2 linked regions of the Homo sapiens genome follow. The protein of the gene in region 1 purifies or fractionates together with the protein of each later gene. This does not show direct contact. Each region holds a gene or a part of one and is shown on either strand. Other genes may lie near its edges. The genes, in order: CEP350 and PPP2R3C.

Region 1 (11,646 bases):
GCCTGTAATCCCAGCACTTTGGGAGGCCGAGACAGGTGGATCACCTGAGGTCAGGAGCTTGAGACCAGCCTGGCCAACATGGTGAAACCCCATCTCTACTAAAAATACAAAAATTAGCCAGGCATGGTGGCATGCGCCTCTAATCCCAGCTACTCCGGAGACTGAGACAGGAGAATTGCTTGAACCCGGGAGGCGGAGGTTGTAGTGAGCCGAGGTGGTGCCACTGCACTCCAGCCTGGGTAACAAAGCGAGACTCTGTCTCAAAAAAAAAAAAAAAAAAATGTCAAGGGTGTTAGGCCTCAGTGGCAGGCCCGCCCTCCTTTCACTCTAATGTTCCCCTACCTTTCTGACTGTGGGTCTTAAGGCCCTCCCATGAGAGGGTCCTACCCAATACCTTGGGGGAAGGAATGCTGATGTCATGAAGCTTTCAGAAAAACCCAAGAGGAAAGAGTTCAGGTAGCTTCTGGATAGCTAAACCTGGAGGTTCCTGGAGGGTGGCAGCCCAGGGAAGGCATGGAAGTTCTGTGCCCCTTTCCCATACTCCACCCTATGCGTCTCTGTATCCTTTGCAATATCCTTCCTAATAAACCAGTAAACCTAAGTAAGTGTTTACTGAGTTCTGTGAGCTACTCCATCAAATTAATTAAACCCAAAGGTGGATCTTGGGAGCCCCAACTTGAAGCTAGTCCATCAGAAGTTCTGGAGGCCTGGACTTGCAACTGGTATGTGTGTGTGGAGGGGGCAGGGGCAGTCTTGGGGACTGAGCACTCACTCTGTGGGATGTGACACTATATCTGGGTAGGGAGTATCAGAACTGATTCAGAGGATACCCAGCTGGTGTCCACTGCTTGGTGTGTGGGGGAAAAGTCCACACACATATGGTCACAGAAGTTTTCTTGTGTGGTGATGATTGTTGTAATGTGAGAGTAGAGGAAGTGGTTTGAGAAAACTTTTACGTGTTATTAAAAAATTGTTTTAAATCTCAATCCCCCTAAAATGTAAAAACATTAGAATCTGCAAATACAAGGTTTACCAAATCTAATTATGGGAGAGGAGACTAGTTCATTTAGCATTTCTTGTTAATAATTAGCTCAAGAAGCTGACAGTATCATTTTGTTAAAAAAAAAAATTAAGAAGAACGAGCTCATGCAAAAAGTTATATAGGTCAGGTCTCTCTGTAGGAAGCTAAAAAATATTTTACAACCAGCAAAGGGGATAGTCACATAATATATACTTTATTATTATTGTTTACCAGTTGCTAAATTGCTTCAATTCTTATGCACAGTACTCCCCTCACCCAAGCTATAATAACCTTACCCCTGCAAAAGAAATATTTTGTTTAGTATTTGAGAATTTCTGATAACTGTTAGAGAGATGTCTGCTTAACTGACCCTGTTTGGCACCTACTGGAAGCCTCTGCTGTCAGGGTACTGATATGGTTTGGCTGTGTCCCCACCTAAATCTCAACTTGAATTGTATCTCCCAGAATTCCCACGTGTGTGGGAGGGACCCAGGGGGAGGTAATTGTATCATGGGAGTCTTTCCCATGCTATTCTCGTGATAGCAATTAAGTCTCACAAGATCTGATGGGTTTATCAGGGGTTTCCACTTTTGCTTCCTCCTCATTTTCTCTTACTGCTGCCATGTATTCATCTTTAAGATCTGAGCTCAAATGTCACTTCCTCAGAGAAGCCTGCCTTGACCATCCTCATTATATCAGCTTCCTGTGGTTTTAACAGCTCCCTATTCTTCCATTTTTATGCATAACTTACACACTTGTGTGTAAACGATATATTAATGGCTGGTTTCTGCCTTCAAACTGGAAATCTATGAAGGTGGGGTCTGTGTCTGTTTTGCTTACTATTGTTAACATCAGTCCTTAATTAGCACAATTTTTGACTCAATGTATATACAGAGGTGATTTATAGGGGATATCATCAATTTAGCTGATAGGTTAGATGAATGCCTCTTAATATGCTTTTTTCTTTAATTCCTAAGAAGTAAAGGAAGTAACAACTTGGAAATTAATAACAATTCAGACTTTAAGACATGATAGAAATAGGAGAACAAATTCACTTTCTTGAGATGTGAAGATCTATGAAGAATTAGTTGATTAAAATCTCGTCTCTTATTTTACTGGGCAAGTCACTTAACATCTTTGAATCTAAATTTCCTCATTTGTAAAACAAAGAATAACATTAGTCCTTCCTACCTCATGTAATTATTGTGAGGATCAAATAAGGCGTAAGACACCTCATTTGTAAAACAAAGGATAACATTAGTTCTTCCTACCTCATGTAATTATCGTGAGGATCAAATAAGGCATAAGACACTGGGCGCGGTGGCTCATGCCTGTAATCCCAGCACTTTGGGAGGCCAAGGCAGGCGGATCACTTGTGGTCAGGAGTTTGAGACCAGCCTGGCCAACATGGCGAAATCCCATCTCTACTAAAAATACAAAAATTAGCTGGACATGGTTGCAGGTGCCTGTAATCCCAGCTACTCGGGAGGTTGAGGCATGAGAATCACTTGAACCTGGGAGGCAGAGGCTGCAGTGAGCAGAGATTGTGCCACCACACTCCAGCCAGGGTGACAGAGCGAGACTGTGTCTCAAAAAAAAAAAAAAAAAAAAAAATCAAATAAGGCATAAGAATGATAAACTATAAAATACTAAGCAAATGTTATCTAGTACAGTTATTACTGAGTAAATGAAACACTAGAGAGGTACATACATGAGAACGGTGATAAATTTAAGTATTACACTTTTTTTCATTATATAAATGTCAATATAGATAAAAGGTCCAGAATTAAAATGTTTAGAGTGAAACCTGAATTTTTCTTTTTTTCTTTTTTGATAAACACTTTCCTAATGTTACAGAAATATATTGCAAAACCAAATAAATCCTATCCAGGGAATGTTCTGGATAATGATAATAGTGATGATGATGAGGTAACAGCTATTATTTACTGAGTTGTATATGAGGAACTATTCTAAGTGCTTTACACATATACTTATTTAATTTTCTTAATAATTTTATCAGGTAAGTACTATTATTGTTACCTTCACTTTGCACAAAAATGTTAGACAAATTTGTCCAAGATTACACATCAAGAGATTTAAACATGGGCAGTCAGGCTCCAGAGTCCACACTGGTCTCTTTTCAATTCACTACCTTAAACTTTGCTTCCATTTGAGTAAATTTCTCAAGTTCTACATAAAATACTATTGATCAAGTTAAATGTTCATCTACTGAGTACAAAAGAAAATAGTTAACAAAACTGAGGGGTAGAAATGCAGCAAGTAAAGGCTTTAAGATTTTAATACCATAGATTTAAGAATAAGTCTATCCCTTTTCCTTTTAGAATCTAACTGCATTCTGAGTTTAAAAGATATGGTCAAAATAAAAACAGTTTGGTTGTATACACTGACCAGGATATGATCCACTCGGTCTCTTTTCTTTCTTCCAAATTTCATCATTTTCTGCCAATCTGTTTTGTGGTTTGGCTCCTTTTTAAGACTGAACAACTTGAGTACTTCACTTGCTATGAAGCTCTGTGGAAACAAGACAAATACACGAAACACAAACAACAGAAATTCCTGAGTTTCATGTGTTTACAATGCAGTAAACAGATTCACGATAAGAATATAATATTTACAATAAAATTATCATACAAATTTCTTCCACTTACAGTTCCACATAGCAATTTGAAGGGAAAAGCATTCCAAATGCTGAGACTTTATTCACTTACGCAACATATAAAAGTAAAACCTAGCTGGGCACGGTGACTCACGTCTGTAATCCCAGCACTCTCTGAAGCCAAGGCAGGAGAATCACTTGAGCCCAGGAGTTTGAGACCAGCCTGAGCAACATAGTGAGAGACCTCATCTCTACAAAAAATATATAAAATTAGCTGGGCATGGTGGTACATGACTGTAGTTCTGGCTACTCAGGAGGGTGAGGTGGGAGAACTGATTGAGCCCAGGAGGTCCAGACTGCAGTGAGCTGAGATTGCACCACTGCACTCCAGCCTAGGTGACAAAGCGAGATCTTATCTAAAAATAACAACAACAACAACAACAACAAAGTAAAACCCACTGATTAATCTGCAAAGAAAAATCACTTTAGAGTTTACTTAAGAACTACCATGCTGGGTGCGGTGGCTCACGCCTGTAATCCCAGCACTTTGAAAGGCCAAGGCGGCGGATCACCTGAGGTCGGGAGTTCGAGACCAGCCTGACCAACATGGAGAAACCCTGTCTCTACTAAAAATACAAAATTAGCTGGGTGAGGTAGCGCATGCCTGTAATCCCAGCTACTCAGGAGGCTGAGGCAGGAGAATCACTTGAATCCAGGAGGCGGAGGTTGCAGTGGGCTGAGATCACGCCATTGTACTCCAGCCTGGGCAACAAGAGTGAAACTCCACCTCAAGAAAAACAAAGAAAAAACAACAACAAAACTACCATTAGCTAACTTCAAGCTGGCAAAACTACTAAAGAAAGCATAAAATAAATCTCTGAATTGGAAAAATCTCAAAGAAATTTTTGGGGACAATGTAATGTGAGAAAAGCAAAAGACTTTGGGATAGTTTATTTTGAAGCACCAAAACTCAAATATGTTAAATTAAAAAATATCAACACTTCAGTATGAGAAGCATAATAATTTTACTACTAACAATATTTGAACTATCACCCTTAAAAACTTTACAAAATGTTATGTCAATATTAAAATTAGTGGGCATTTATTGTATGCTATATTGATGCATGTAGTTTGATTGTTGGTATATATTATATATCTTGTCTTACCTCAACTTAATGTTATTAATAATTTATTTTGTTACTTTTATGGTTGTTCTGTTAAAAAAACAATGTTCTTAACAGGGGAAGGGACACATTTATGAATCAGAATCACCTGGAAAGATTCTCAAAGTACCAACGTGCCCGGAAATTCCATCACTCCCTACCTGTTCACAGACACACATAGCATTCAAGCATTTTCAATTGTGAAAGGGTAGAAGGAATGGAGTATACAATGTGTTTTTAAAAAGCTAGTTACTTTAAGCCAGGGGATGGCCAATTTTTTCTGTAAAAAATCAGACTGTAAATATTTTAGGCTTTGCGGGCCATGTGGTCTTTGTCACAACTATTCAATTCCACTGTTGTAGTTACATGTAGTTGTAACATGTAAACAACTAGGTATGGCTGTGGTCCAACAAAACTTTATTTATAAAAACATACAGGGGCCTGGATTTGGCTTATGGGCCATAGTTTGCCAACCCCTGAGGTAAGCATACATCCCATCTCATAAATATCTGTTGGTGTTCTATAAGTATAAAATATTTTTAAAGGCTTTCTGTGATCAAATAAGTTTGGGAAATACAAGTTTAAAGCTTTGCTACTCAGCGTGGTCCTGGGACCAGCAGGACCAGCAGGACCAGCAGGACCAGCATGACTTGAGAGCTTGTTGGAAATGCAGAATTTCAGGTCCTACTCCAGACCTACTAAATCAGAATCTCCATTTCAACAAGATCCTCAGATCATTCACATGCACATTAAAAGTTGAGAATCACTGCTCTGGAAATATAACCTTTGCCGTAAAGAAACATGTGACTAGGCAGAGCAGATTGCCAGCAATGTGACTTTAAAGTTCATAGTCCTTGTAGCTTCTGGACAAAGGTTTACAAAGGTTTCTTAGATAACAAAATAAATATTTTTACGTATCACATTACTATCCTACATAGTTCAAAACCACATTACCAATTTGAAACCTCCAAAGTCAAAGATAAAGAAGTTAACACCTATGTGTCCAGGGCTGGCATATTGAAAAGACATATATATGACACGTATTCATATGTACTTTTAGAACATTATACCTATCTCTAAAGCCCCCAAAACTTACCTAAAACTCCTATTAGTTGCAATAATTTATCTCCCTAGGTATTTCCTAATTTTTCTTAAATATTATAATTATGTATATAGAGAAAATGACTGGTAAAAGAATTTTTTTTTTTTTTTGCACAAACTTGAGGATTCAGCCCTTTCACTCATTCCAATCCCTCCACTGTTCATGGATTCAGTAAGTCAACAAATCTTTATTGAATACCCACTATGGAACAGGTCCTGAAGACACAAAGGTTAATCATACAGAAGAGCACCTGCTTTTACAACATTTACAGATATGTGTAAATGAACAGCAAGTCAAAAAAGAAGACACTTTATAGTTTGCAGTTTACCTTGATTTCATCAAGGTTATTTGGATTTTTCACTCGTCGGAAATAACTAGAGTTGATTCTACATGGCTTCATCCAGACAGGTTGATTTAAGTTGGGATCCTCAGCAAATATTTCCTCAAAAATCTCTTTTGTTAAATCAAAAACCGCCTTGATAGAGAAAAACAAAACAAAACAAAACAAAATGGCTAAGAATCCAAATTTCAGACAATGGGAGAAAAGTTTAAAAACTAAAATTATCCTTTTATTTCACCTACCTGTTTGTAGACCCTTTTACTAGTGCTTTCTATATCTAGACCTTTACTGGCACAGCCAAGCAGTTTTGTAGGAATACTGATGCTATGAAGATCGTGGCCTAATTCTTTCCATTTCCAAAGTTCTTCTGCTGCATTATGTACAAGAATCTCTACTTCTTCTGCAGTATGGGGGACTGCCAATAATGTTTCACATGGTTGTTGGGTTACTCTTTTAGGTTCTGCCATTAGAGGTACAATGGTTTCTTCTGCCTTATTTTTTTGGATCTTGTGAGAAGAGCTCAAACCAAAGTCTTCATCAAACCAGTCTTGATCATCTCCTAACGCGCTCAGGAACTCCCGGCTGAGTTCAAGTTCAGCAAGTCTCTTAGCAAGTTCTTCCTGCCCACTGGCACCAAATACTGGGCTCTCCTATAGAAATGGAACCATTCAAACAGAGCACCATTTAGGGACCTCATATCATTTTTTTTTAAAAAAAGACAGAGTAAATGCATTATTTATATATCTAATATTTCTCTATAAGTAAGCAGAATAAAAAACAATATGGTGGCTACTAATAAACAATCTAAGAAAAAGTTATCCTGTTCCCTCAATTCTACTTATATAAACCTTGCATATAACTGAATTTTTATAAAATGTTTATTGATTAGGGCTCTCCCCGCTTTTTGTATTATCATTATTCTGTTTCTAAAGAACTGTCTATGGGATATGGAAATGGGATATAAAATTTCTCACCTCTGGTGACCATCTGGCTCAAGTTACTCAAAGTCATTACTTTTGCTCAACTGTCCATGGGCAACATAAACAAGCTGATGGTCTGAGTGCATGTCATAGTGGATCTATTTCATTTTACCAGAATCAACATCACAACTGCTAACCTCTGCAGGCCAACCATGACTGAGTAGATATGTAAACAATTTCACAGGCAAAAAAGAATTGGGTGGTGAGCCACTGGAAAGCTCCATGGAACGAATTTGTTCAGTGAATCTGGAAGGAGATGTAATCTATGGACAGTACAGGGGTTGTCAACTCAGCAGTTTAAATGGATGTTTTAGTTCCCCAAAACCTGCCAGTGCTTGTGACAACCCTATATTGACTACTCATGACATAATAGAGGACAATTACACTTCAGCCAGGAAAAACAGCTACAAGGCCTTTAAAAACCAGTACAGTGATCCTTCTCTAATAAACAACACGTCAAGGGAAAAAAAACCTATCAGGAGTCACAGAATTAAAATGTACTATATAGGCAAGGTAAGTTGCCTTGTTAAAAGTGTCAAAAGGTATACTGATACTTTTTCTAGACGAAATACTCACCGGTCTGGGACACATATCTGGAGAGGAAATCTCTTCTTTTTCATCTTCCAATTCAGAACTTAAGAAGCAACCTGAAATACTTGGCGACTGTTCCTCAACATTTTGGGATAGGTCTTGGGGTGTTACTTTCTTTTGGTCATCACCAAGAAGCTCCTGATTGCTAAGCTGGATTTTCTCATCCCTGGTTTTTTTGATTTGTTGTAGTTGATTGACTGTGTCCTTTACAAAGACTTTTAGTAAACTGTCTGTCAGTAAGCTGATTTTTTCCAGTTGTTGTTTTGACTTTTTTTCCTCATTTAGTGATGACTTCAGCTGGGCTTCCAGTTGGTTTTTTTCTCTTGTTAAAAGATCCAGAAGTGGTGTACAAAGCTTTTCTGAAGCTTCAGCATATAGGTTGTCTTCCTCTTCTGTAAACTGCTGTTGCTTCTCCAATTCTTCGGAAAAGGTATTGTCTAAAGTGTCATCTTCTGCAGCGATGGAAACCTTTTCTGTGGCATCAGAAATGAGGTCTTTGTTTTCCTTTGAAGAAATCTGTGAATCCACTGAAGACTGCTGGTGAACATGGGCTTCAAGTACCCCAGAAATGTCCTGTACATTGTCTGTTTCTATTTTAAGGCTTCTACTTCTATTAACTGAGGCTTCTATATCATTCACACTAGGTAGGGATTTCTCATAAAAATATTCACTGACATCCTTTTCTCTGTCTTTTGGACCCTCTGTATCATTTTGCTCTTGATTATAGCACTGATATCGTTCATCTGAGTAACAGTCTTCATCTTCATTAATGTCTACATAGTCATCAAAGTTTTCTGGAATGTGAGATATTTTTTGAGGAGGAGCAAAAATACCATGCTTTTCTTTGCACTCAAAATATGCAATACCATCATATGTTCCATTGTTATTTCCTTCAGGTTTATCTAACTCCACTCCGGCCCAAAATCCTTTAGCAAAACTAGTCTCACCTTTGAATCGAAGAATTCCTGGCTGAACATTTCCAATCAACACCCTATCACCAATGTGGAAATCAAATAACTCGTCTGCAGTAGGAACTGAAGCCAAGGAAGGGGATTCAGTAACTTGCTGTTCATGCTCCACATCACTGCGCTCCTTACTTTTCATCAGCTCAGTAGGGGACTTGAGTTCCAACAGCCTGTCAGAATGAACATTGCTATGGATAGAAAGGCTTTTCTCACTTAGGCACTCACTGATTTCCTCATTACTACCAAAGCTAGTGGCTCCACTTGTAGAGCTCCTCATTGGCTGTGGCTTATCTCTGCAAGACTGAGAGTCTTTCCTGAGTGACAGCAAAGATGACACCTCAAAATCATCTTTGTACAATTCAGCTGAAATTTCTTTCTTGAAAGAAGACACTTCAAAATCTTCAGAGTATGGTATCTCTTTAGGAGCAAAAAGATGTTCTGACCAAGACAAATCTTTTTCCTTTGTGTTCTTTTGTTCGTGAATGTCTTTTCCTGATTGGATGTTTGGACTATGATTCATATCTTGATCTGACTGTCTCTCTTTCAACATTTCCTCACTTTTATGGAGATTTTCAATAGCTAATCCAACTAGGTCTTTCTGAACATTTTCAGAATCTAAAGGAAGATCTTTCTTTGAAAGAATTTCAGATGAATCTCCCTGTTCTAGGACTAATTTCAGTAAGACATCAGATTTACCTTCTTTAGAAAAGGCATCTTCAATCTTACTCTTCTTCAATTTTGTATACTCTATTTCTTTTATTTCTGATTTTTTACTAGATTCTCCAACCTTGCCATCTGACATATCAAGAATTCTACTAGTGGCATTTAATTCTTTGAGAAGATGTAATGCAGGTACATTTTCTAGAGAATCTCCAGATTCTTCTCTGATTTTCCTTGATGATCTGAGAACTGGAGATGGGGTCTGAAAATCTTCTGTTCGACTGTCCCATTCATTTACTCTCTTTGCATATGCAGATAAAGACCTTTCTGATACTGATCTCTCAGAACCAGACAGTGAAGCATCTTAAAGAAAAAACAAATCACCACATCAAAATTATTTAATCACTATCTTTCAATTTTGTGAACCAAAGTTTAGAGAAAAGCCAAATTTTAGTGAAAAAAACCCCTCTAGTCAATAAATATGACCTGTTTTGGCTACTTTATAAGTTTTTCTTTTAAGAGAATATCATCTGTATCAACATTTAAAATTACTGAAAATTCTAAAGTTTGGAATAATTTCTTAAGCACTGTCTTAACTTATAAAGTGAAGAAAAATGTATCTAAGTTGATGGAACCATTGCTTTGCACATTCATCCTCAAATCATGCAAAAATAGAATTGTATGATGGTTATTACAAACATTTTTCAAACAGGAAACTAGTGAAGGAGAAACAGACTTCCATATATACTTCTAAAAGAATACATTTTCCTAGGAGCTTCAACTAAGCTCTTGAATTAAAAAGAAAATAGATCAACTATTTCTGCAAATATAGCACTTTAAGAGCTAAACGTGCAAAATATGATCAAAGTACAATATAGTGAGCTAACAAACCAAGAGTTAAAAGTTTTAAATTCAAATCGTTTTTTTTTTGTAAGAGCAAGAATCTGCTCTGTCACCTAAGCTGGAGTGCAGTGGTCACAGCTCCCTGTTGCCTTGAACCTGGGCTCAAGCGATCCTTAGCCTCAGCCTCCTAAGTACCTGGGATTATAGGCACGAGCCACTGTGCCTGGCCAAATCTCTATTTGTCACTGATGTTTCTTTGCACCTCAGTTTTATTTTCTCACTGAATTACATTTTTTTTTTTTTTTGAGATAGTGTCTCAATTTGTCACCCAAGCTGGAGTGCAGTGGCTGATCACAACTCGCTGTAGACTCAACTGCTTGGGTGTAAGCGATCTTCCTGCCTCAGCCCTGCAAATAGCTGGGACTATAGGTGTGCACCACCATGCCCAGCTAACTTTGTATGTTTTGTAGAGATGGAGTTTCACCATATTGCCCAGGCTGGTCTCAAACTCCTGAGCTCAAGTGACCTGCCTACTTCAGCCTTTCAAAGTGTGGGGATTATAGGCGTGAGCTGCTGCGCCTAGCCTACATTTTATTTTTAATAATTAACTTTCTTTTGGTTAAACTGAAAAATGTATACAGCTATTTAGCTAAGAAATAGTTAGGCTGAAAATATATATAACCAGATTAAAAATCTGGTTAGGGGAAATTCAGAGATGCAGATGATATACTCAGCTATTTAATCTTTATACTTTGGTTTTTCTCATAAATTTTGGACAATAAAGACTGATTCAGCTGAGTGTGGTGGCTCATGCCCATAATCTCACCACTTTGGCTGAAGTGCTGGTAATGTTCAACCAGGCTGAGGTGGGAGGACTGCGTGAGTCCAAGAGTTCGAGACCAGCCTGGGCAACAACGGTGAGACCCCCCCGTCTCTTAAAAAAAAAAAAAAGATGAGCTGGGCATGGTGGCATGTGCCTGTGATCCTGGTCCTGGCTACTTGGGAGGCTAGGATGGGAGGATTGCTTGAGCCCAGGGGGTCAAGGCTGCAGTAGTAAGCTATGATCATGCCACTGCACTCCAGCTTGGGTGACAGAGTGAGACCCTGTCTCGAACAAAAAAAAAACCCAAAAAACTAAAACAAACAAAAAGGATTCATATAATTTACACATAGCCAATAAATCACTTTAAAATATAAAAGTAACTTTAAAATGTTAAATAATCTACTTAAGAAATTCACTTTTTAATAAAAAAGCTATAGAGGTAGAATTTTGTAGGCCTTTGCATAAATCCTTAGACTATGTAGCTACAAGTTAATTATTTTTTCTAGTTACATACCAACATGTTCAGCAATAGACTCCAGGG
Region 2 (11,646 bases), on another chromosome or scaffold:
AGGCTGGTCTCGTACTCCTGATCTCAGGTGATCTACCTGCCTCGGCCTCCCAAAGTGCTGGGATTACAGGCGTGAGCCACCATGCTGGCCCATCCCATCTTTTTTTTTAGAGGTCTATTTTTTTTTCTTAAGGTCTATTTTGTCTATTTAAAAAAAATAAAAATAAAAAGCTATTTATACCTGAAACTGAAATCTACTGAAAAATACCTATTTAGTATTATACAAGTTAACTGGAATCTTAGCTGGATGTTCCTTGAACCTATTACCTTCTAACTCTATTAATTACAACGTTATTTGCAAGTATAGTAAACAATGATTTAGCTGGTGTTCTTACAGATTAAGGTATTTATATAAGTGAGTTATCCAGATACTGAAATATTTCTTCAAGTGCAAATTTTTTTCAACCGAACATTTTTTATTGGAAACCTTCCTATAATACTATATACTTCTCAACCTTTTAAGAATCATATGCCTGTAATCCTAGCCTATATTTATTGTAGAAAAGGAAAAAATATGGCTAAACAAGTTGATCTCTTCCCATGACAACATCACCCAACAATGTAAACAGAACATTTTATATGAATCTTTCTACATATTTCTGTGGGTATCTGTGTATTTTTTTAAATGGGATTACATCATACATACCTTTACTGCTTTTTGCATTTCACACTCTCCTTAAACAGAGGCAGCTAAATAACTGAATATTTTTGATAGCCGAGGGGAGAGAGAAGGGAATTGACATTTATTGAGTGTCTAAGCACTGCAGAGCCCTTTGTATTCTTTATCTCATTTAACCTGGATTCTTAAATAATATGTTACTGTTATCGAACATAGGTTCTTGGGTTCTCAATGCAAAAGGGAGAGAGAGCACCTGACTCTGAAAAGAGCTGGTAGGGCTTTTTAAAAAAAAATCAGGAATTGATATTAGGGTGGGGTATGCAGGCTGGGCTGGGCAAAGCAGATCAGGTAGGGTATGCAGGTCAGCATTGTCTGGTTGCTATGGTTATCTTGAGCAGCGGGCCACCTGGTCTGGCTAGAGGCAACAAGGCTGTAAATCAGTTGTTCAGCATTCCTTCCCCAGATAGGACACTCACTTCACAACTTTGGTTATCTCCTAGTTACTGGAATTCTTTTGAGTAAAAGGCATGGTTTGGACATTATGGTGTCAGTGAGGTAGTGGTGTGGGTTTTGTGATCAGTGGGAATGCATGAAAAGAGTGCCATAGTGGGAGTGAGCTGACCCAAGCCCCCATTCCTACTCTGTCTCATTCCTAACAGCTCTTGGATAGGAATGGTGTGACCCCGTTCCTGAGCCCAGGACTGAACTTTCTTGTACTTCCGGGACCAAACCTTTGCCTTCTTTTTCTGGTTCCTGAGGGAATCTCCTTTTTTTCCTTTCTTCGTGTCACTTCTCTCTTTGGCCACCTCTAGATCTTAGATGGTCTCCTGTCTGCAGCTATGGATTTGTAAAAAAGTCCTTTCCCTTCTTTCTTCTTCCTCTCCATGGTCCCACTGCTTCAGAGAAAACACCTATTATCTTGAGTCACCACTTCTCTCCTTGGCTGATTAGCTGGTTAACTAGCCACTAGAACACAATGTCAGTCACCCCCAACTCCAGCCCCATCCCCATCTCCTAATGTTTCTTCTGTTGACGAAGAGTTGAACTCTGTAAAATATTTGAAGAGATTTATTCTGAGCCAAATATGAGTGGCCATGGCCTGTGACACAGCCTTCAAGAGATCCTGAGAACATGTACCAAAGGTGGTTTGGGTGCAGCTTGGTTTCATACATTTTAGGGAGGCATGAGACATCAATCAAATACATTTGAGAAATACATTGGTTTGATCCAGAAAGGTGGGACAATTTGAAGTGGGGCTTCCAGGCTACAGGTAAATTCAAATGTTTTCTGGTTGACACTTGGCTGAGTTTGTCTAAAGACCTGGGATCAAACAGAAAGGAATGTCTGGGTTAAGATAAGAGGCTGTAGCGACCAAGGTTTTATCATGCAGATGAAGCTTTTAGCTAGCAGGCTTCAGAGAGAATAGGTTGCAAAATGTTTCTTATTAGACTTAAAGTCTGTGTTGATGTTAATGCCAGAGAGGTATAACGAGGCATGTTTGACCCCCACTTCCCATCATGCCCTGAAACAGTCTCTCAGGTTAAATTTTAAGGGCGCTGACTGAGGAGGAAGTCCATTCAGATGGTTGGGGGGCCTTAGAATTTTATTTTTGGTTTATACTCCTTTAACTCTGTTCCTTCTGATGGGAGGGATGGCATCTTAGTTCCTGGAAATGAAAGATGAAAACCATAACCCCAAGTTTTGACGTAAGGTTTACCGAGGTAATTTAATGGGGCTAAGATGTAGAAAAGGAAGAAGAACTCTTTAAAGTAAATTATTCTGGCTGGGTGTGGTGGCTCATGCCTGTAATCCTAGCACTTTGGGAGGCCAAGGTGGGAGGACTGCTTGAGTCCAGGACTTCAAGACCAACCTGGGCAACATAGCAAGACCCTGCCTCTATTATTAATTTAAAAAAGAAGAAATAAAGCAAATTGTTCTAAGTCAGGTTGGAATGAATCATTCTAAAGCTCTGCTCATGGAAATCACCCCAGTTGGCAAACCCTCTTGCCTGGGAGGCCAACATAATAGGCACTGCCTTGACTGTCTCCAAGAAGAAAGGTGATCCAATCTCAACAGGCATGCTTTCCTAAAACTGGACAAGAAGAATAAATGGTTTTTGCTGGACAGGAAGAATTACAGGTAAGAACCACCCAACAGGTTCTTCTTGCCTGCTACCCAGATAGAGCCAATTTATCAAGATGGGAATTGCAAGAGAGAAATAATTTCATATACATGGAGACAGCTAAATGGGAGACAGGAGTTTTATTATTACTCAAATCAGCCTTCTTGAAAAGTTGGAGGCTAGGGTTTTTCAAGGATAGTTTGGTAGGCAGGGGCTAGGGAATGGGTACTGCTGATTGGTTGGGGATGGAATCACAGGGATATAGAAAAACAGTCCTGGTCCTTGCGTGCTGAGTCTGCTTCTGGGTTGGGGCCACAGAGGAGTGGCTGGTCTGAGAGGGGCCATTGGGTAGTCAGAAGTGCAAAAGCCTGAAAAGACATCTCAAAAGGCCAGTCCTGTGTACTACAATAGTGATGTTATTTACAGGAGTAATTGAGGATGTTGCAAATTTTTGTGCCCTCTGGAATAATAACTGCTAATCATTTAACTGACCTGCATCTTAGCAGAATTCTGGTCCTTCGCATCCTCCTGACCTGGTGTCCTTTCATTAGTTTTACAAAGGCAGTTTAGTTTTGGGATGAGCTATTATCATTTAAATCATAAACTAAATTTCTCCCAAATTTATTAATATCTTGGCCCATGCCCAGGAATGACCAAGGGCAGATTGGAGGTTAAAAACAAGATGGAGTTGGTTAGGTCAGATCTCTTTCACTGTCATCATTTTGTCACTGTTATAATTTTGCAAAGGTGGTTTTGAAATTGTCAATCTCCAGTTAATCCTCATTTAATTCTTCTATATCATTCTTTTTTTTTTTTTTTTTTTTTTGGTAGATGGAGTCTCGCTCTGTTGCCAGGCTGGAGTGTAGTGGCGTGATCTCAGCTCACTGCAACCTCCGCCTCCTGGGTTTAAGCAATTCTCCTGCCTCAGCCTCCTGAGTAGCTGGGACTACAGGCACATGCCACCATGCCCAGCTAATTTTTGTATTTTTAGTAGAGACGGGGTTGCACAGTGTTGGCCAGGATGGTCGATCTCTTGACTTCATGATCCGCCTGCCTCGGCCACCCAAAGTGCTGGGATTACGGGTGTGAGCCACTGCCCCCAGCCAATTCTATATCATTCTAAGGAAGCCAGCATGCCCAGCCAATTCTGTGTCATTCTAAGGTGACAATAGAAACACAGTGCTTTAAGAAAATAAAATGAAACTTGGTCTAGACTAGCTTTTAGAATGGCTTTTTCAGGGCAGAGATCCAGCCTTTCTGATCACCGATTCTCTGTGGATCAGTTTTTGTTAAACAAATGTTAAGCACAATTAAGGTGAGATACAAGAAATAATTCGAGGCGGTGGCATACAGTTATTTTATGAGGCCACATACATTTTATAGGATCCAGTAGTCTAAAATTTACATGTAGAAATTTACCTTGTATTTTCAGCTGCCTGCTGAAGATGAAGTCTTACTACAGAAATTAAGAGAGGAATCAAGAGCTGTCTTTCTACAAAGAAAAAGCAGAGAACTGTTAGATAATGAAGAATTACAGGTAAGAACAAAGCAAAAAGTTGCTTTAGATGTTAACCATTTCTCATTTGTGCTACTTAAATCATGCAGGATTTCTTGGTGCCTAATGGAGTCCGTACTACAGAGTGGTACTACATAGGCTCTGAAGCAGCAGTTCCCACCAGAAGCAGCCGCTGAGTTTGCATGGGTCATGTACCCCAAACATAGTGTTGTTTGTTATTTTTGTTTAAGGCCCTAGGTGATTCTAATGTGCAGCCAAGGTTGAGAACCACTGCTGTAGGGTCAGACTACAGAGGTTCAAATCCCAGCCCTGCTATATGACTTTAGGCAATGGACTTAACATCTCTGTGCTTCGATTATCATCTCTAAAGTAGGGATAGCTAACTATATCATAGAGATGTGGATTAAAGAGGCAGTGTATATCAAAAGCTTAGTAGGCACTCAATAAATGTTATTTTTATTGTTAGTAATCAAAAGGATAATAGGGCATGAGATTCATCTTAATATTGACTCTGCCAACAAACTCTCATTTTAGTGGAAAGCACACATTTAACTACATATTAAAATCTTGTTGTTTTTAACTTACAACATCTTCACTTCCACAATTCTCTTAAGAACTTATGGTTTTTGCTGGACAAACACCAGACACCACCTATGATTGGAGAGGAAGCGATGATCAATTACGAAAACTTTTTGAAGGTTGGTGAAAAGGCTGGAGCAAAGTGCAAGTAAGAATAATATAATTAACAAAAGAATGTGTTATGTTAAGCATTTTAAATGCCTCAAATATTGGCTGGGCACAGTGGCTCACACCTGTAATCCCAGCAGTTTTGGAGGCTGAGGTGAGAGGATTGCTTGAGCTGGGGTGTTTGAGGCCAGCCTGGGCAACTTAGGGAGATCTTGTCTCTACTAAAAAAATTATCTGGGTGTGGGGGCGTACACCTGTAGCTACTCCGGAGGCTGAGGTGGGAGAATTGCTTGAGCCCGGGAGGATGAGCTGTGATTAAGCCACTGCACTCCAGCCTGGGCGATAGAGCAAGACCTTACCTTTAAAAAAAATAAACAAATCCTCAAATATTAAATGAAGTAAATGGAATGACATTTGAGTCCATTTAAGTTACTAATTAAATTTAATAAAATTATTTACAGTCAAAAAATCACATTGGTATGAAGTTATTAAAATAAATAATATAGCCAGGTGTGGTGGCTCATGCCTGTAATCCCAGCACTTTGGGAGGCTGAGGTGAGCGGATCACGAGGTCAAGAGAACAAGACCATCCTGACCAACATGGTGAAACCCCGTCTCTACTAAAAATACAAAAATTAGCTGGGCGTGGTGGCGTGTGCCTGTAATCCCAGCTACTCAGGAGGCTGAGGCAGGAGAATCGCTTGAACCCTGGAGGCGGAGGTTGCAGTGAGCCGAGATCGTGCCACTGCACTCCAGCTTGGCAAAAGAGCAAGACTCCATCTCAAAAAAAAAAAAGAAATAATATAGTTTATGACACTTTCAGCCTTAAGACAGACGAAAGCAAACAAAAAAGAATGCAAGGCCAGGCACTGTGGCTCACGTGCCCATCTCTGCAAAATAAAAAAAACTTTTAATTAAAAAAAAAAAGAATGCAAACATTTATGACTTAGGCTAGGCATGGTGCCTCACGTTTGTAATTCCAGTGCTTTGGGAGGCCAAGGCAGGTGGATCACTTGAGGCCAGGAGTTCGAGATCAGTCAGGGCAACAGAGCAAATCTCTGTTTATATATATATATTTATCTTTTTTTTTGAGATGGAGTCTTGCTCTGTCGCTAGGCTGCAGGGGAGTGGCGCAATCTCAGCTCACTATAACCTCCGCCTCCTGGGTTCAAGTGATTCTCCTGCCTCAGCCTCCCAAGTATTATTGTATTAACAAAAGAATATGTTAAGCATTTTAAATGCCTCAAATATTGGCTGGGCCAATATAAATACAATATAATACAATATAAATACCCAATACAAATACTTTTTGTATTTTTACTAGAGACGGGGTTTCACCATGTTGGCCAAAATGGTCTCGATCTCTTGACTCATGATGTGCCTGCCTCAGCCTCCCAAAGTGCTGGGATTACAGGCAAGAGCCACTGCGCCTGGCCAAATCTCCATTTCTTTTAAAAAAAAAAAAAAGTTTGACTTAATATTTTAAGTTTTTGAATTATAAGGAGTCTCTATTGTTCTTTCATTTTTAATTGTATGAATTTATGCCATTGTTTGCTAATTTATGTAGAAGTCATTTTCTTTTATGTTGGCAGATCATTTAAATCTTTATTTTCTTTTCTTAGGCAATTTTTCACAGCAAAAGTCTTTGCTAAACTCCTTCATACAGATTCATATGGAAGAATTTCCATCATGCAGTTCTTTAATTATGTCATGAGAAAAGGTGATTCATTTTTACTGTGCTTGAACTCCTTATCTGGGAATCAAGTAGGTTTTTGGTCTGTGCTTTTATAAGTATTTCTTCTATGTGAAATCACTCTAAGTTTGAATAGTAGAATTTCTTATCTTTTGACCAAGATGTGTTACATAAACTTGGGTTAGCATAAAAAAACAAAAATTTTTTAAACCCTCATGTGTCTTAAAGATAATAGTAGACTAGAAATATTAAGAGCTGAACCAAGAGTTTTAATGTATGGTAATTTGAAATAATTTTAATTTACTGATAATTTTATTTTACCAGTATATTACAAGTTGAGTTGACTGATAGTTTCAAACCCAAAGCTGTAATATCAGTTTCAAGGAGCATCAATTAAACAGCTTGGACTTATGATTCCTACAAGTGCCATAATAATCTGTGAAAGCCTATTGTATACAATCTTTAATAATTGGTTGCTGTAATTAACCTCAGAAATAAAAGCAGCTTCACTGAAGGCATAATATTATACTAGCTGTCCCTGTTTGGTGGAACACCAAGTTTAATTGGTAAAGAACAGTATCTTCAAGGTGTCAATTTTATTATAGCTTTAGTCATGGTAGAATTGTTGAACTCTTCCATTCTATGGTTTTTTGTTTCAAGCAATTTTGTGGTGAGAAGAAATGTTTTTAGAGTTACTAGATTAGCTTGTCTCAAATCTGGCTCTTTATCTCCTTTTTCATATCTGAAGGATAGATCTTAAGAATTACTTTCATTTTCTTGTTTATTGTCAGTTTGGCTTCATCAAACAAGAATAGGACTCAGTTTATATGATGTCGCTGGGCAGGGGTACCTTCGGGAATCTGTAAGTGTTAACCTTATAGATATTATATTAACTCTTATAGACACTAAAATGTAAACTGTAGTTATCACTGGGTGTTGGGATTACAGGCTGTTCTCATAATACTTTGTTTTATTTCTGTCTGTGTGTGTTTGTGTGTACATATTTAGTTTTACTGTAACAAAGCAACTTGTACACTTTCAACTTTTAAAATTGAACATCATCTTTCCAGTGAAACAAAAAACAAATTTAAAATAAACAAAATTACAATAGAGAATGTCAATTCCAAATAAGATCCTACAGGTTCTACTGATTCTCCCATGGAGTAGCAGCCTTCAAGTCATCATTAAGAGAGAATTTATGCTGGGTGTGGTAGCTCACACCTGTAATCCCAGCACTTTGGAAGGATGAGGCAGGCGGATCACCTGAGGTCGGGAGTTTGAGACCAGCCTGACCAACATGGAGAAACCCTATCTCTACTAAAAATACAAAATTAGCCAGGCTTGGTGGCACATACCTGTAATCCCAGCTACTTGGAAGGCTGAGGCAGGAGAATCACTTGAACCCAGGAGGCAGAGGTTGCTGTGAACCGAGATAGCGCCATTGCACTCCAGCCTGGGCAACAAGAGTGAAACTCCGTCTCAAAAAAAAAAAAAAAAAAAAATGTATTGGCTGGGTGCAGTGGCTCACGCCTGTATTCCCAAGGCCTGTACTCCCAGCACTTTGGGAGGCTGACGTGGGCGGGTCACCTGAGGTCAGGAGTTTGAGACCAGCCTGACCAATATGGTGAAATTCCATCTCTACTAAAAATAGAAAAATTTGCTGGGCTGTGGTGGTGCATACCTGTAATCCCAGCTATTCAAGGGGCTGAGGTGGGAGAATCGCTTGAATCTGGGAGGCAGAGGTTGCAGTGAGCCGAGATTGCACCACTGCACTCCAGCCTGGGCAACAGAGGGAGACCCTGTCTCAAAAAAAAAGAGAGAGAGAATTTATTTTAAAGGTGTCATTTTAAACTGCAAGGATGCCCCTTAAAAATCACAATTAAACATGCCAAAGGAAAAGCAACGTTGTCAAAATGCTCACTTTAAACTATCAAAACGTTTCAAACCTACCCTTTGCTGACCTATAACCCCATTTTGTAAAATTTATTTTCTTTTTTTAAATAAGAGACAGTAGACAAGGATGCCGGGCGTGGTGGCTCACGCCTGTAATCCCAGCACTTTGGGAGGCCGAGGCGGGCGGATCACGAGGTCAGGAGATCGAGACCATTCTGGCTAACACGGTGAAACCCCATCTCTACTAAAAATACAAAAAAAAATTAGCCGGGCGTGGTGGCAGGCACCTGTAGTTCCAGCTACTTGGGAGGCTGAGGCAGGAGAATGGCATGAACCCAGGAGGCGGAGCTTGCAGTGAGCCGAGATCACGCCACTGCACTCCAACCTGGGCGAAAGAGCGAGACTCCATCTCAAAAAAAAAAAGACACAGTAGACAAGGAGATGTTGGTAAATGCTAACTGTCCATATTCACATAGAGACATAGTATACTCTGCGCTCAATAGAGGAAAGCAGCTAGAATTCTATGCACGACTACACAAGGGCCTAGCACCTTCCAGCTTCCAGCAGAGCAAAGGGAACAGGTTTTTCTTTTTTTTTCCATAGACCTCGGTGGTGTTGATTCCATATAGTTTTTGTTGAGACACAGGATGTTTCCGTTTTGGGGTTTGGTTTTTTATTTTTATTTTTTTTAACAAATGACATGTGTTACTAAACAAATGTTTAATGTATATTGACTATACAAATTCCTTTTTAGATTCTTTTTCTTCAAACTTTAAAAAAAAAAGGCCTTTTGGCTGGGCGCGGTGGCTCATGCCTATAATCCCAGCATTTTGGGAGGCCGAGGTGGGCAGATCTTGAGGTCAGGAGTTCAAGACCAGCCTGACCAACATGGAGAAACCCCGTCTCTACTAAAAATACAAAAATTAGCCAGGCATGGTGGTGGCCACCTGTAATCCCAGCTACTCAGGAGGCTGAGACAAGAGAATCGCTTGAACCCAGGAGGTGGAGGTTGCAGTGAGCCTAGATTGTGCCATTGCACTCCAGCCTGGGTGACAAGAGCGGACTGTCTCAAAAAAAAAAGCCTTTTAAAGGGGAAAATAAAAAGAATGTAGCATTTTAACATTTAAAAATCACTGAAAAACGTTTGATTATTCATGAGTGATATTAATGTGTCACTATTTTTTAAAGGGCCAAGAATTCCACCCCCCCGCTTTTTTTTTTTTAAGAAAATATAAGAGAAGCCAGACACGGTAGCTCACGCCTGTAATCCCAGCACTTTGGGAGGTGAAGGCGAGTGGATCACTTGATGTCAGGACTTCGAGACCAGCCTGATCAACATGGTGAAACCCTGTCTCTATTAAAAATACAAAAACATTAGCTGAGCATGGTAGCAGATGCCTGTAATCCCAGCTACTAGAGTGGCTGAGGCAGGAGAATCGCTTGAACCCAAGAGGCAGTTGCAGTAAGCTGAGATCATGCCACTGCACTCCAGCCTGGGCAACAGAGCAAGACTGTCTCAAAAGAAAAAAGAAAATATGAGAGAGAAAATGAATGTGACTGTATTCCCACCTCTGGGTTTAAGATTGCTAGGTCAGTTACCAAGAGGCTGCTTGTTTCCTATTAGGCACTGCTGTAATTAGGCCAAGTTATCAACAGAGAATTATAACTTCATGGTCCAAATGGCTATGCTTCTTCTGAGTATGGGTATCTAAATTATATGGACTTACTTTTCACCTCAGGCTTTTTTCCCAAATATACAGTGCTTTTTTTAAGATTGTAGGGGAGAGGGGAAGGGAGTTGGGCATGAATATAAACTAGGTTAATTAATCAAATAATTATTCAGATATAAGGGTTAAAGAAATGTAAATTTCTTGTTATAGTTCGTATGGTTCCTGCTATAATTTGTTGCATTCTGTTTTGTCTAGATTTCTGTAGATAGAATCTGTTAGCTCATTCTGAACATTTATACTGTAAAACCTTTCCAGGGGCACACTACAGTTCTCTTTAAGGTTCAGACCAACTTGAGAATAAAAGGCTCTTGCTTCTGGCAAGGAAGACATAATTAGCCACCTGCTGGTACTCGTTTAGAGGTCAGGTCCAAAACTGGAGTACTTCTCTAGCTCTGAGAATTCTTGTTAGCAGTTCACTTGATTTATAAAAACAGCAATATTGATTTATAAAAACAGTCCCCTGTTACTGCTTGTCTTGCCTCTTTCCATGGATGGAAACAAAGATTGAAAGAGAGATGAGCAAAAGGGAGAGAAAAGAAACAGTGTACTTCTATAGTTGTTTTTAAAAAGGAATAATTTTCCCCTTCTCTCAATGAAAGAAAACACTTTTCTCAAAGTATTTCTTCCATCCTTGGCCCATTGCCTTTTGAAACCCAGACTTTGTGTCTTACTAATTTGAAAGGCAGTGGCTTCCAGACCAACATTTATAATCTGAGTAGAGTATACAAAGTTTTATTCACTTATTAAATCTTATTAAGCATTTAGTAGACATTTATTTGGGGGCAGGTATTATTCTAAGCTTGTAGGGCTCATGTTTTACTTTGTGACAATCTGTTTGCCCAGATTTCTTTTTTTTCTTTTTTTTGTTTTCTTGCCCAGATTTCTGTAGATGGAATCTGTTAGCTCATTCTAAATGTTATACTTTAAAACCTTTCCAGGGACACAGTACAATTTTCATTCCCTTGTAGACCTATTTTTTCTAGCAGAGTGGGAAGACAGACACTAAATTATAAGCAGATAATATCAAATAGTGACAAGTTATATGTAGAAAATAAAACAGTAAACTAGGCAGGAATATGACTGGGATTGACAGACGATTTTAGGTAGGCTGGAAGGAGCATCTTTTTGAGATAGTGATTAAGTTTTAGCCATGAAGTACGAGAAAGAAGCCAGCCTTATGAAGATGTAGTATAGAGGAAACGGCAAATACAGTGTCTCCAAGGCAAAATTAAGCCTGGACCTGTTCTAGGAACAGAAGGAAGCCAGTGTGGCTAGAACAAGGACTATAGTAACAGAAAATGAAGTTGGAGAAGTAGGCAGGGGCCACATGTAGGGCCTTTTGGGCCACAGTAAGGACTTTGGATTTATTTTGAGGCTAACGGGAAAC

Evidence for each region.
Region 2: the proteins of CEP350 (region 1) and PPP2R3C purify together in Homo sapiens (affinity purification with mass spectrometry; 2 studies listed by BioGRID and IntAct, with this or other methods). This does not show direct contact.

Annotation. Positions count from the first base shown.
Region 1 is NC_000001.11:180,090,770-180,102,415, reverse strand, and holds part of CEP350 (centrosome-associated protein 350), read right to left. Parts: coding exon 11,620-11,646; intron 9,803-11,619; coding exon 7,800-9,802; intron 6,894-7,799; coding exon 6,486-6,893; intron 6,379-6,485; coding exon 6,232-6,378; intron 3,554-6,231; coding exon 3,431-3,553; intron 1-3,430. UniProt on the Homo sapiens protein: Plays an essential role in centriole growth by stabilizing a procentriolar seed composed of at least, SASS6 and CPAP. Required for anchoring microtubules to the centrosomes and for the integrity of the microtubule network.
Region 2 is NC_000014.9:35,103,156-35,114,801, reverse strand, and holds part of PPP2R3C (serine/threonine-protein phosphatase 2A regulatory subunit B'' subunit gamma), read left to right. Parts: intron 1-1,671; exon of another isoform or gene 1,672-2,727; coding exon of another isoform or gene 2,728-2,757; intron 2,758-4,159; exon of another isoform or gene 4,160-4,172; coding exon 4,173-4,277; intron 4,278-4,870; coding exon 4,871-4,983; intron 4,984-6,565; coding exon 6,566-6,663; intron 6,664-7,427; coding exon 7,428-7,498; intron 7,499-11,646. UniProt on the Homo sapiens protein: May regulate MCM3AP phosphorylation through phosphatase recruitment. May act as a negative regulator of ABCB1 expression and function through the dephosphorylation of ABCB1 by TFPI2/PPP2R3C complex.